Homo sapiens: one gene and its partner. The protein of the gene in region 1 interacts with the protein of each later gene in a biochemical or structural test. Each region holds a gene or a part of one and is shown in the gene's direction. Other genes may lie near its edges.

Region 1 (3,600 bases):
CTTTGTGTATTTGTTACTTACATATCTGGTCTATCTCTCTAAGCACTTATCAGCCTACTTACATATATGCTGTATCTCTCTAAACACTTAATCACCCTTTAGATATGGTTACTACATTGTGTTACATAATGTCTGTAGAATACAGCAAATTCTGAGAAAATAATTGCTTTTTGATTTGGATCTTATGATGACATCTATTTCATGGGAAGTCTTCAGAAAGAAGTATGGACCAGTGAATTTAACTTAATCCAGTATATCCAAAATACCATGCAACATCTAATTTGTGTAAAATAATTGAGACGTTTCATATTATTCCTTTCATACGTTCAAAATCCAGTTTGTATTTTACGGTTATGGCATACCTCCACTTGGACTAGCTGCATTTCAAGTGCTTAATAGCCACATGTGGTTAGTGGCTACCTTATTGGAACAGCCCATGTACAGAGTATAGCATTTAGGGAGAGGTAATTGTAGCATATTATGATCTAACAGTTTATTTGATTAGAAATGATGAAGAATACAGAGTCCTAGAGTTTAGTTTAATTTGATCTCTAACTTTGTGTATGACCTTGGGGAAAATCGCTTAGTCTTATGGTTCTTTCATCTGTAAAACTAGAGGTACTTGACATCTGCTTCATGAGTGTTGTGAAGATTAATAGGTAATGTTAGGAAGATGCCTGGCAATTCTCTGAGCGTTTTATCACCTTCAGCTTTTCTTTTTGGGGGAGGGAAGGGATTTAACAAGATTCAGTATAATTGATTCTCTTACTCCCTTATTTTCAGTGGCTGTTTTTTCTCTCTGCTTGTATAACTTGTTACATTGAACAAGTAATAGGGAAAGGTTTTAATACAGAGACATGTAGCTGCTCATTGAAGGGCAGTTTAGGCACACCAAATTAGTGATCCTTTTAAAGTTGTAATTTCTGAGTGTTAGAGTTGAAAGTTATTCATAGATTTCAATCTGATATTTGTTCCTACCTCTCTCTACCATTCTGACTCCTCTAAAATGTGGTCATGTTAAGTTTCTTGAAACACAAACGCACCAAAGAAGGCATATGTTCAGTATCCATTTAAAATAATTATCAGGAACTATCAGATGATATTCACCATGGCGTGGCTGCTTCTTACAGTGTTGTAGAAGATCCCCAGTCTTAGTTTGAGAATAGTAACCATAGAAAAGAGGGTATATACAGTGCAACACAGGAAATGGGTAGTGACCAAACTTGAAATAAAAAACTTGTCAGGATAAAGTAAATTAAGCTCATATAATTTATGTTTTTTAAAGTAGAGGGGAATTTTCTTGTAGATTTCCTAATAAACCTGCATACTTTTTATGAAAGTTCTGAGTGTCTAGGTTCAAATAGAGCATAAAATATAACTAGATCTTTTAAAAACACAACTTTAAGAAAACAACTTACCCTAAATATAAAAGAATATTAAAATGCTACATAATTAGAAACTTGTGATTATCCACACAAACATAAAATATGAAGTCAGCTTGAACTTTAAAAAAAGGTGCTTGGTTGGCAAGAGTTTAATAAATTGATCAGCTGTTTTGTTGTTTTGAAAGAGCCTCAGTGATTTGTTAAAGTGTACAGAGTGAAAAGCATTGTTAAGGTATTAAGTCTTGTTAACTTTTAGAGACTGATCTCTCTCACCACAAATCTTGGAACATATTTACTATACTTAAAATAACTACTGTCTAATTTTTCACATAATAGTCCAAGCATGTGACAATATGAAATATCTGATAGAAATATAGTTAGGAATTAAATGACTGTTTCTGTACTTCTTGCCAACTTTCCTGGTTTACAAGGTAGCCAGTTTGAGAATTGCTTCATTGATAGTTTTCCTGGAGATACCAAGATGCCCTTATTTTTCGTAGTCACTAAGTATGTCAAATGAATGTACAAGATTGGGAAGAATTGTAGGAGTGATTTAGATTTCAAAGAATGAAGCTACTTTAGAAAAAAAAATGCAAAGGTAGTTTTTAAACATTGATTTCTAATACCTGATAGTGGTTGTGGGTCCTTAAAATATTTTTAAATGTTTTCTGGAGTAGCATTCATCTATTTGAGGCCTATAATGATGAATGAAACAAGAGCATGTCATCAGATTTAACCTTGATCTCTGATTTTGGTACTTACTCGCTGATTTAGTTTTGGAACAGAAAAGAGGAATATGACTGAAGGGAACTTTCTGAGCACCTACTGTATATGCTTTTAACTGTATTCACATTTCTCTCAATCTTATACATATTGAATTTATTTTAAAGAAGAAATTTTAAAGAAGAAACTCTTGTGCTTTTGATTTAATAAGATAACATTTAAGGGAATGATTTTAATTCAGGTGTGTCAGAGTCTGTTCTTTTTGTACTTTACCATATTTCCTCCATTTGACTTCTTTCAGCCTTAATGCCAGTCTCAAATTTGATGAAAAGGTTCTATGTGAAAGCACTGAGCATAGTCCACGGGGTATAATAGGTATTCAGTAAATGTTTTCTTTTTTTCTCAGAGGGTTTTTGGAAATTGTGGGTCACTTGTAGACTTTCAAACACTAGAAAACACAGTTTGTTTTCTGTGCTTTTCATTTAGGTTTGGTAAAAGACAGGGTTGGAGTTCTTCCTTTTTCTGTGGTTAATATGAGAACTGTATATTGATATCTATAAAATAAGGACATTTTTCAAAACCAAAAATACATAATGAGAAGAATGGCCATGTTGAACCTTTTTTTCGGGTCTTAATGTTTGGCTTAAGACAGCTGAATTCTCATCTGTTTCTGCATTCAGTCTTTTGTGATACACTGTTTTGGTCGAAGTGTGTGAAGAATGTCCACCTTCACACAGACAGACAGTTGAAAAAGGAAAGTATGTTATGTTTTCATAGGCTTTTCAGGATAATTATGGAGATTAAGTGATACTACACCGTAATTCTGCAAGAGGTAGTTTCTTAAAGATAGTTGCAATGTAGAATCTGAAGCCACATGAGTGAACTTTTCTTACACTGTTACATTAAAATCTATTGGTCTGTCTTGCACTTCAGATGTAACATTTACCCATCTTTTACTGATGCTTTTTGTAATACCATGCATTGGATTATTTGGAAAACATTATGTCACTGAGTTATGCACGTCTTCCAAATGCTAACATATTTTATTCAATAAAAAATTCATGATTGTTAACCACACAATTCAGAAAAATCTTAAGTATTGAGAATCTGTCAGGTTCACAGAAGTGGATACAAGTTTTCTAAAATTCTAACTTTCTCTGGGAAGCTCAATTTTTTTTTCTTTTTTTACCATGCCTCTGGGACAAGTTCAGAGGAAGCTGAAATTTTATCATTAGCAATAAATGCTATAAATGGTTATCGTTGAAGCCATAGACTCACTTTGCTCATTTTTGTGAAAACATCTTCCAACCATTAAGTCTGAATAACCATAATTTGTCTGTCAGTCGTTTTTTCAAGTAAAAATAGTGTTCCATGAAAAAAGTGGCTAGGTCAGTTCACAACTCAGTTGCACAAGTACTTTTTCCTTGAGACAGTCGTCCTTAAGTAGAAGTTGGTATGCAGCAGAAGTGGCTTATATGTAATCTTCATTTTT
Region 2 (3,832 bases), on another chromosome or scaffold:
TGGCATGTGCCTGTAGTCGCAGCTGCTTGGGAGGCTGAAGTAGGAGCATCACCTAAGTCCCAGAGGTTGAGGCTGCAGTGAGCCAAGATTACACCCACTGCACTCCATCCTAGGTGACAGAGTGAGACCCTGTCTCAAAAAAAAAAAAGAAAATATTGTAAGGGCCTGGTGCAGTGGCTCTCATCTGTAATCCCAGCACTTTGGGAGGTGAAAGTGGGAGTATTCCTTGAGTCCAGGAGTTAACGACCAGCCTGGGCAACATGGTAAGACCCTGTCTCTACAAAACAGCCAAGCATGGTGGTGTGTGCCTGTAGCCCCAGCTACTCAGGAGGCTGAGGTGGGAGGATCACTTGACCCTGGGAAGTTAAGGCTGCGTGAGCTGTGATCACGCTCCTGCACCCAGCCTAGGTGATAGAGTGAAACCTTCTCACAAGAAAAAAGAAAATATTTTAAGATGTTTGTGTTCTCCAAACATTAAGTTAGTGTTAGTCATATTGTGTTCCAGAGGTTGGTTTATGGTTGGATACCAAAACATTTTTTCAGTAGAGAGAATATTATAAGGAAATATAAATCAAAGAGAGACAGCATGTAAAGGTCTATGACAGAAAGACAAGTTTTCTATTTACTAGAAGGCAGGTATTGATGCCACAGCCTTTGGATGTTAATGATTAAGCATAGGTTTATTTTGCAGACTTATCAGTTACCAGTTTAGTGCGTGAGTTCTCTATGCTGATATTCTGCATCTTCTTTCAACAGGTTTTTTAGTCTTTATTAATTTGTATTGCATAAAATATGGGGCACTAGCACTACAAGAAATATTTGATGGTATACAACCAAAGTAAGTTTGTTTTTATTATTTTTTAAAGGAAGAAAATGTTTTGACTTTTTTTTTAGTACAAATCAGTATCTCTGTCTTATAGATGATGATGTGGTTCTTGGTATGGAGATAGTGTCTATGGTTTTCAAAATATTCTTAGGTATTGGGAGTAAAGAAAAAGTAATCCTGGCCCAGCATGGTGGCTCACGCCCGTAATCCCACACTCTGAGAGGCTGAGGAGGGCGGATTTAGCTCAGGAGTTTGAGACCAGCCTGGGCAATATAGTGAGACTCCATCTCAAAAAAAGAAAAAACACCCTGGAATCATTGTTCTAATCCTCTAGATTAGAGGACCATCTACTCTACACACTGGCATTCTCCACAGCCAGTGTTCTATATTATGTTAAATGGTCAGTGTTGTCTCCAGGAGCCTGCCTTATTAAAACTAACAGCAGAAAACACCACATGTTCTCACTCATAGGTGGGAATTGAACAATGAGAACACTTGGACACAGGGCGGGGAACATCACACTCTGGGGCCTGTCGTGGGATGGGGGGCAGGGGAAGGGAGGGCAGAGGGAGGGATAGCATTAGCAGAAATACCTAATGTAAATGACGAGTTAATGGGTGCAGTAAACCAACTTGGCACATGTATACATATGTAACAAACCTGCACGTTGTGCACATGTACCCTAGAACTTAAAGTATAATTAAAAAAAAAAACCAGAATTTTCCTTCCCCCTTTTTTAAAAAATCGTGCTAATCCATATCGTTCCAATTTTAGTATATGTGCTGCTAATGCAAACACAGCAGAATTTTTCAAATGAGAAATACTTAGGACCAATAAATTAACTTTGTTTTTGACTTATCTGGTATATATGCAAAGAATGTATTTAGGTGGCATTTCCCATTAGTAGGGAATAAAACAATTATAACGATAAGATAAAGAACAACTCTTAGGGAAAATTTCTTCGGGGACAGTTAGATCCCTGTACCTCAGTTATGTCTCAAAAATTCTACATTGACTAAAAAATGAATTACTCTGGAAAGGAGACCAGAAAACATGGCTTCCGGCAGTAGGGGATTTTGAGGAAATCTCATGCACTGCTAGTGGGAGCCTGAATTAGCCTGATCTTTCTAGAGAGCAAAATGTATGCACTTTTTATCCAGAGCATTAGAATTGCCATACCCTTTGAGCCATATTTCCACTTCAAAGAATTGGTTCTATTAACGCATAAACTGAGGATTTTGCATCATTTAGAATTACGGAAAACTTCACTTCTAGCATGTTTGCAACAACATAGAATGATTGGCCGAATTATTTTAAATAGCCATTAGCATTTATGTACCTGCAGGTATGTAAGCAAAGACAGTTGGGAAGCTTATAACCCAAAAATGTTAAAACTAGTTGTTTCTGGGTGGTGGGATGATTCCTTTTTTCCCTCCTTGCTCCTCTCTCTTTTTTTTTTTTTTTTCTTTTTTTTTTTTGAGACTGGCCAGGTGTAATTTTTAAAGAAAAAAGCAGAGAGGGCCAGGAATGGTGGCTCACGCCTGTAATCCTAGCACTTTGGGAGGCTGAGGCAGGTGGATCACCTGAGGTCAGGAGTTCGAGATCAGCCTGGCCAACACAATGAAACCCCATCTCTACTAAAAATACAAAAATTTGCCGGGCGTGGTGGTGGGCACCTGTAATCCCACCTACTCAGGGGGCTGAGGCAGGCAAATTGCTTGAACCCAGGAGGTGGAGGTTGTAGTGAGCTGAGATCACACCGTTCCACTCCAGCCTGGGCAACAAGAGCGAAACTCCGTCTCAAAAAAAAAAAGAAAAGAAAAAGATTATGGCATTTGGCTACAGGGTAGAGGTGTGATGGGGTTTTTTTATGTTTTGACTTTCAGTCTCTTCAGATGATCAAAAACAGCAGTCTTGTTATTTAGTAATTTATCATATTCATAAGAAGTAACTAACATCTAAGCATTTTACTATTTCATTATAGTGATAATCTAATATTAAGTTGATTTATTTTGCTTTAATAGAATGTTTGGAATGGTTTTGGAAAAAATTATTATTCCTGAAATTCAGAAGGTATCTGGAAATGTAGAGAAAAAGATCTGTGCGGTTGGCATAACCAAATTACTAACAGAATGTCCCCCAATGATGGACACTGAGTATACCAAACTGTGGTAAGTACTTCATTTTAATATTTTTGTAAGTTACAGCTTCCTTCCCATATGACTGCAAAATTAACAAAGCTTATTCTCTTGGGGGCCAAGAGAATCTTGGTCTGATCTCAGCTTCTCCACAATCAGATCCAAGACATGATTTCTGGATCCTTCTGGGCTTAGAATGATCTTGTTTCCTGCTTCTTTTTCAGGGGGATTCATGGACCCCTTTAAGAGTCTGATCTAGGTGATCTCTAAGACAATTTTATGACAGAAGCCCAACTAAACTGACTTATCTTTAAGGGGAAGAACTGAATAAGCCAAGAAAAGAACCATCTTAATTTCAAAGGTCCCCTTTTATTCTTGAGACTATGAGTCTGTAATTTTGTGTCTCTGAGCAATTGCTGGTTTTAAGTCTTCCGAGTATTTTCTTGACCTTTTTATCTCTTGCTTTCTTCCAATCCAGGACTCCATTATTACAGTCTTTGATTGGTCTTTTTGAGTTACCCGAAGATGATACCATTCCTGATGAGGAACATTTTATTGACATAGAAGATACACCAGGATATCAGACTGCCTTCTCACAGTTGGCATTTGCTGGGAAAAAAGAGCATGATCCTGTAGGTCAAATGGTGAATAACCCCAAAATTCACCTGGCACAGTCACTTCACAAGTTGTCTACCGCCTGTCCAGGAAGGGTAAGTGTGTTGTCAAAGAACTCTGTGATAAATGGAGACTTTAATGGGAGGGCAAAAGGATAGTAGTAGTTCTGGTGTCTGTTTTCATTGGTGGGCGTAATAAAACTAAATCTCATTGAGTTACAGCAAGCTTATTTTCTTTAATTAAAAACACTGAG

Evidence for each region.
Region 2: the proteins of KPNA4 (region 1) and CSE1L form a complex in vitro, tested with the Homo sapiens proteins (one study listed by BioGRID).

Annotation. Positions count from the first base shown.
Region 1 is NC_000003.12:160,558,972-160,562,571, reverse strand, and holds part of KPNA4 (importin subunit alpha-3), read left to right. Parts: intron 1-3,600. UniProt on the Homo sapiens protein: Functions in nuclear protein import as an adapter protein for nuclear receptor KPNB1. Binds specifically and directly to substrates containing either a simple or bipartite NLS motif.
Region 2 is NC_000020.11:49,091,290-49,095,121, forward strand, and holds part of CSE1L (exportin-2), read left to right. Parts: intron 1-756; coding exon 757-838; intron 839-2,850; coding exon 2,851-2,997; intron 2,998-3,442; coding exon 3,443-3,674; intron 3,675-3,832. UniProt on the Homo sapiens protein: Export receptor for importin-alpha. Mediates importin-alpha re-export from the nucleus to the cytoplasm after import substrates (cargos) have been released into the nucleoplasm.